2 linked regions of the Homo sapiens genome follow. The protein of the gene in region 1 interacts with the protein of each later gene in a pairwise test. Each region holds a gene or a part of one and is shown on either strand. Other genes may lie near its edges. The genes, in order: CYP4F12 and SOD2.

What was found.
Region 2: the proteins of CYP4F12 (region 1) and SOD2 interact in a two-hybrid assay, tested with the Homo sapiens proteins (one large-scale study listed by BioGRID and IntAct).

The regions. Positions count from the first base shown.
Region 1 is NC_000019.10:15,682,990-15,686,804, reverse strand, and holds part of CYP4F12 (cytochrome P450 4F12), read right to left. Parts: intron 3,313-3,815; coding exon 3,042-3,312; intron 1,990-3,041; coding exon 1,923-1,989; intron 1,738-1,922; coding exon 1,608-1,737; intron 1-1,607. UniProt on the Homo sapiens protein: A cytochrome P450 monooxygenase involved in the metabolism of endogenous polyunsaturated fatty acids (PUFAs).
Region 2 is NC_000006.12:159,672,433-159,676,247, forward strand, and holds part of SOD2 (superoxide dismutase [Mn], mitochondrial isoform A precursor), read right to left. Parts: 3' UTR 1-3,815. UniProt on the Homo sapiens protein: Destroys superoxide anion radicals which are normally produced within the cells and which are toxic to biological systems.

The sequences.
Region 1 (3,815 bases):
CTCAGGTCCCAGAATGTCTTCACTGGGACTTCATTCTACAGCTGGTCCTCTCTCCACAGTAGCTCTGAAAAGATCTTTCTGGTGCCCAGATATGACCTGCCCCTCCCCTGCTCAACCACTTGTTATGGCTTCCCATTGCCTTTGGGTTAAAATGGAAGCCATTACCATTTTCCCATATTTTCCACAGCCAGACTCTGCTTTCACTACCATAGTTATTATCTCATCACAACTCAGTTCCTTTCTCTCTCATTCTCTCTCTGTCTCCTTCTGTCTTCCCTCCTCTCTTTATCTTGCTCTCCCTCACTTTTCCTCCCTCTTACTTCTCCCTCCCTTTATAACCATCTCCTTCCCTGACACACAAACCTCTCTTTCCCTCTTCTCCCTCTCTCCTGCTCCCTCTTTTTGCATTTTTGCCCAGACTTTCTTTTTGACCTAGGGCACTACTGCATCCAAACACCTACTGATCACCATTCAGGGTTTCAGTTGAGGCACTTTATTATTTTGGTTTTTTACTTTTTTAGAAATGGGTTCTTTCTATATTGCCCAGGTTGATCTTAAACCTGACCTCAAGTGATTATCCCACTTCAGCCTCCTCGGTACTTGGTATCACAAGCGACAGCCACCAGATCTGGCTTGAAACACTTTCTATCACACTTTCTGTACTCCCAGCCATGCTTCTCTTGCTCTCAACTCCATCCTTGCCTATGTGGACTGGGAATGTCTTGTGGGGGACTGTTCCTACTAGGCTGGGAGTACCTGGAAAACACATCCATAGGCAGGGTTCTTTCCAGGTCTCCAGAGCACAGAAAGGTGTGGGAACAGAACTGGCAATGGAAAGGCATGTGGAAGAGTTTGCTGAATGAAGACTGAATGGATGAACGATGCAGGTGTTCTAGACAAAAGATAGATGACTTTTACCCCCAGGTCTCCCTTAGGACTCCCTGGACTGGACCGGAGGGTAGGAATTAGGGAACAGAAGAGTAAACATTCAGGAAGTAAAGATGTTTGAAAAAAATATGATAATTCAGAGTAAACAAGAAAGGAGTGAAGGGAAAATTCATTGACTGAACATGTCTAGATGTCATCGTCTGCCTTCATATATTGTCCTTAGTTCTCTCAGCGGGCTAGGACTCTCTGTCCCAAAAGTCTGAAAACTTTCCCCTGCTAGCCAGGTTGGATACCAAGTTCTGCCTCTGTGCTCTGCTCCTAGTACTACTAAGCAATAATGGAAGAATTGACAAAAACAACTTCTCCCTCCCCACCTGAGCAAACATTCAAGAAGTGAGGATTTTCGAAAAAACTGATATTTCTGGGAGAACAGAAACAGAGTGGAGGGGAAGTTCATTTGCTGAACATGTGCAAAGTAGCATTATCTGTCCTCACACATTGTCACCAATTCTCTTAGCAGCCCGGGTCTTTCGGTCCTAAAGGCCTGCAACTTTTCCCCTGACAGCCAGGCTTGGTATCAAGCCCTGCCTGTGGTCCTCTGCTTTTATACCCACTAAGCAATAGTGGAAGAATCCACAAAACAACTCCTCCACCCCTCCTCACTTGGGGAGCAGAACCAATGATGGGCTCAGGAACAGGCCAGAAGAACTTGCACTCACCATTCAATCTCTTTAGGATCGCGGTCCTTCAGAAGCTCTTGCACCTCCTGTCGGCAGCGCTCCTGGTATTCTGGGTGCCTCGCAAGGTTGTACAGGACCCAGGAGAGGCCACTGGCCGTGGTGTCATGGCCTGAGGAGCAGCCAGGTAAGCTTGGCTTCAGCACCGGAGGGTGGACAGCGCCCAGATATTGAGGCCCTCAGGAGGATGGAGGGAGGGGGAAGATGGGCAGAATGGAGTGATCCAGGGTCCACCCACCCGGATCCTGAGATGGAGGGACCTCTGTCTCCACTGTAGTCCCACACTGGGACCCTCACCTCCAAACATGAAGGTGTCAGCCTCTGCTCTTATATCCTCATCTGACAATGCCTTCCCATCTTCATCCTGAAGAGAAAGCAAGACACACACACACACACACACACACACACACACACACACACACAAATTATACTATCTCTGAGACTCCGGAGTCTAACCTGAGATAATCTCTGAAGCTCTGATCTTCCAGAAACTCAAATGCACTCTGCACGTCTAGATCTCTCTTGTTCACCATCACCAAAGCCCCAACTCCAAGGGCTTCCCCCAGATCCTTTGCCTCCTCTTTGGACCCTGGTGACAGGAATCAATGGTTCTCGAATATTTTCATTTTTCTGCATAATACAGACTTTCAGAGAAAAAGATACTGGCAACCTGGGGTACAGGATATTTGAATGGCAATTTGCCTTGGAGGTTAGAAATTATGTATTGCTCCAAAAATATTTGCTGACATTCTAGAGTGGTAAACCCAGAGAATCTTATCTTTCCAGAAGATATTTGGGTTATAAAACTCTAGAAATTGCCATCTCACAGGAGAGGGGTAGTTTATACGCCAGAACAAAGCATTCTCTCTCTCTCTCTTTCTCTGTCTCTAACTTTCACCCTGTAATAAAGAAGGAGCATATGAGCTAGCTGTCCTATATAAGCTATAATACTCATAATGTGGGGGCCCCTCTCCTTGGTGCAAATTCTTGTGCATTTACAGGTAAAAACATTGTGTTGCCCTAGGAATGGGGAGCCAGCACTACCATCCTACTCCACCTGCTGTTACTGCTGTAAATAATTAATGGGCTGCTGTGATCCAGGGGTTTGGTGCATCTTTTATCATAGATACAGACATAGACAAAGACATAGACATATAGATACACATAAAAATGTGAAAGACTAACACACTAACTTATAAGTTGAATAAAATATCATGCTCCTCACAGTTTCAGAATTAGCAGTGCCCTGTGGGCTGCATGCAATAAAGTCATCTCTAAAACCTATCTGTGACCTTCCCTTTCTCAAGCATCTTCCATGGCTCCCAGTGCCCTTTGGATCAAAACCAATTTATTTCACCTGACATTTGACATGAAGCTCTATTCTCTCACCTAAATTCAGATCATAGAGAAACCTACCTTGCTCAGCAGAAGCACATCAATGAAATCCAAAGTCTTGGACTTGGCTTTGTCTTTGAAAAAATCATCAATACCCTGAGTGGGGAGGGTGCGACGCCGCTCCCGGATGACAGCGTCTGTGAAGTCATGCACCAGGCGGCAGGCCCTGTGGAAGCGCCGCCCGTCATGGGAGAGGTAATACAGAAAGTCCATGTGCTGGAGGATATGCTGGCTTCTTTTCTCTACAAGGGCACTGAGCTCCAAGATGGTGGCAATATATTCACTGGGCCTCCTGCAGAGCAAGGGCAGAAAGGGAGGCAACAATGTAACGTATGCAAAGCCCCAGGAACACCTCCCACCAGCAGCCAGGAGCTACCTCCCATCAGGAAACTGAGTATCTAGAAATAGATGGTCCTAGAGATACATGGTGGGTATCAGTCATGAGACTGACTCTCTAGACTGTCTTCTCTCCCTGCATCCTATCTCTGAGAGAGCTGTCTCCATGCACCTAGGCACCTAGAGTATAGCTTGGACACCATGCTTCTCTCCTCTGTCTCCCATCCAGTATGCAGTACTGATCATTTTCCTTACCAAAACTGTCCACACAACTCAGACTTCATCCTCTTCCAGTTCAGCCCTGCTCCAGCCCCCAGCATAACCAACTCTCTCTCTCTTTCTCTCTCTCTCTCTCTGTCTCTCTGTCTCTCTCTCTCTCCCTCTCTCTTTCACCCTGTAAGAAAGAAGAAGCAGCTGGGCACAGTGGCTCATGCCTGTAATCCCAACATTTTCTGAGGC
Region 2 (3,815 bases), on another chromosome or scaffold:
ATATTCAACGTTCTTGAAGAAAAGAATTTTCAACCCAGAATTTCATATCCAGCCAAACTAAGCTTCATAAGTGAAGGAGAAATAAAATCCTTTACAAACAAGCAAATGCTGAGAGATTTTGTCACCACCAGGCCTGCCTTACAAGAGCTCCTGAAGGAAGCACTAAACATGGAATGGAACAACCAGTATCAGCCACTGCAAAAACATGCCAAATTGTAAAGACCATTGAGGCTAGGAAGAAACTGCATCAACTAACGAGCAAAATAACCAGTGAACATCCTAGTGACAGGATCAAATTCACACATAACAATATTAACCTTAAATGTAAATGGGCTAAATGCTCCAATTAAAAGACACAGACTGGCACACTGGATAAAGAGTCAAGACCCATCAGGGTGCTGTATTCAGGAAACCCATCTCACGTACAGAGACACACACACATAGGCTCAAAATAAAAGGATGGAGGAAGATCTACCAAGCAAACGGAAAACAAAAAAAAAGGCCGGGGTTGCAATCCTAGTCTCTGATAAAACAGACTTTAAACCAACAAAGATCAAAAGAGACAAAGAAGGCCATTACATGATAGTAAAGGGATCAATTCAACAAGAAGAGCTAACTATCTTAAATATATATGCACCCAATACAGGAGCACCCAGATTCATAAACCAAGTCCTTAGAGACCTACAAAGAGATTTAGACTCCCACACAATAACAATGGGAGACTCTAACACCCCACTGTCAATATTAGACAGATCAACGAGACAGAAAGTTAACAAGGATATCCAGGAATTGAATTCAGCTCTGCACCAAGCAGACCTAATAGACATCTACAGAACTCTCCACCCCAAATCAACAGAATATACATTCTTCTCAGCACCACATCGCACCTATTCCAAAATTGACCACATAGTTGGAAGTAAAGCACTCCTCAGCAAATGTAAAAGAACAGAAATTATAACATACTGTCTCAGACCACAGTGCAATCAAACTAGAACTCAGGATTAAGAAACTCACTCAAAACCACTCAGCTACATGGAAACTGAACAACCTGCTCCTGAATGACTACTGGGTACATAACAAAATGAAGGCAGAAATAAAGATGTTCTTTGAAACCAACGAGAACAAAGACACAACATACCAGAATCTCTGGGACACATTTAAAGCAGTGTGTAGAGGGAAATTTACAGCACTAAGTGCCCACAAGAGAAAGCAGGAAAGATCTAAAATTGACACTCTAACATCACAATTAAAAATATTAGAGAAGCAAGAGCAAACACATTCAACAGCTAGCAGAAGACAAGAAATAACTAAGATCAGAGCAGAACTGAAGGAGACAGAGACACAAAAAAACCTTCAAAAAATGAATGAATCCAGGAGCTGGTTTTTTGAAAAGATAAACACAATTGATAGACCGCTAGCAAGACTAATAAACAAGAAAAGAGAGAAGAATCAAATAAATGCAATAAAAAATGATAAAGTGGATATCACCACCAATCCCACAGAAATACAGAGTACACAGAGAATACTATAAACACCTCTATGCAAATAAACTAGAAAATCTAGAAGAAATAGATAAATTCCTGGACACATACACCCTCTCAAAACTAAACCAGGAAGAAGTTTAATCCCTGAATAGACCAATAACAGGCTCTGAAATTGAGGCAATAATTAATAGCCTACCAACCAAAAAAAGTCCAGGACAAGATGGATTCACAGCCGAATTCTACCAGAGGTACAAGGAAGAGCTGGTACCATTCCTTCTGAAACTATTCCAATCAATAGAAAAAGAGGGAATCCTCCCTAACTCATTTTATGAAGCCAGCATCATCCTGATACCAAAGCCTGGCAGAGACATAACAAAAAAAGAGAACTTTAGACCAATATCCCTGATGAAAATCAATGCAAAAATCCTCAATAAAATACTGGCAAACTGAATCCAGCAGCATATCAAAAAGCTTATCCACCATGATCAAGTGGGCTTCATCCCTGGGATGCAAGGCTGGTTCAACATACACAAATCAATAAAAGTAATCCAGCATATAAACAGAACCAAAGACAAAAACCACATGATTATCTCAACAGATGCAGAAAAGGCCTTGGACAAAATTCAACAGCCCTTCATGCTAAAAACTCTCAATGAATTAGGTATTGATGGGACATATCTCAAAATAATAAGAGCTATCTATGACAAACCCACAGCCAATATCAGACTGAATGGGCAAAAACTGGAAGCATTCCCTTTGAAAACTGGCACAAGACAGGGATGCCCTCTCTCACCACTCCTATTCAACATAGTGTTGGAAGTTCTGGCCAGGGCCATCAGGCAGGAGAAAGAAATAAAGGGTATTCAATAAGGAAAAGAGGAAGTCAAATTGTCCCTGTTTGCAGATGACATGATTTTATATTTAGAAAACCCCATCATCTCAGCCCAAAATCTCCTTAATTTGATAAGCAACTTCAGCAAAATCTCAGGATACAAAATCAATGTGCAAAAATCACAAGCATTCTTATACACCAACAACAGACAAACAGAGAGCCAAATCATGAGTGAACTCCCATTCACAACTGCCTCAAAGAGAATAAAATACCTAGGAATCCAACTTACAAGGGATGTGAAGGACCTCTTCAAGGAGAACTACAAACCACTGCTCAAGGAAATAAAAGAGGACACAAACAAATGGAAGAACATTCCATGCTCATGGATAGGAAGAATCAATATCGTGAAAATGGCTATACTGCCCAAGGTAATTTATAGATTCAATGCCATCCCCATCAAGCTACCCATGACTTTCTTCATAGAATTGGAAAAAACTACTTTAAAGTTCATGTGGAACCAAAAAAGAGCCTGCACTGCCAAAACGATCCTAAGCCAAAAGAACAAAGCTGGAGGCATCACGCTACCTGATTTCAAACTATACTACAAGGCTGCAGTAACCAAAACAGCATGGTACTAGTACCAAAACAGAGATATAGACCAATGGAACAGAACAGAGCCCTCAGAAATAATACCACACATCTACAACTATCTGATCTTTGAGAAACCTGACAAAAACAAGAAATGGGGAAAGGATTCCCTATTTAATAAATGGTGCTGGGAAAACTGGCTAGCCACATGTAGAAAGCTGAAACTGGATCCCTTCCTTACACCTTATACAAAAATTAATTCAAGATGGATTAAAGACTTAAATGTTAGACCTAAAACCATAAAAACCCTAGAAGAAAACCTATGCAGTACCATTCAGGACACAGGCATGGGCAAGGACTTCATGTCTAAAACACCAAAAGCAATGGCAACAGAAGCCAAAATTGACAAATGGGATCTCATTAAACTCAAGAGCTTCTGCACAGCAAAAGAAACTACCATCAGAGTGAACAGGCAACCTACAAAATGGGAGAAAATTTTTGCAATCTACTCATCTGACAAAGGGCTAATATCCAGAATCTACAAGGAACTCAAACAAACTTACAAGAAAAAAACAAACCCCATCAAAAAGTAGGTGAAGGATATGAAGAGACACTTCTCAAAAGAAGACATCCATGCATCCAACAGACACATGAAAAAAATGCTCATCATCATGGGCCATCAGAGAAATGCAAATCAAAACCACAATGAGATACCATCTCACACCAGTTAGAATGTCAATCATTAAAAAGTCAGGAAACAACAGGTGCTGGAGAGGATGTGGAGAAATAGGAACACTTTTACACTGGTGGTGGGACTGTAAACTAGTTCAACCATTGTGGAAGACAGTGTGGCGATTCCTCAGGGATCTAGAACTAGAAATACCATTTGACCCAGCCATCCCATTACTGGG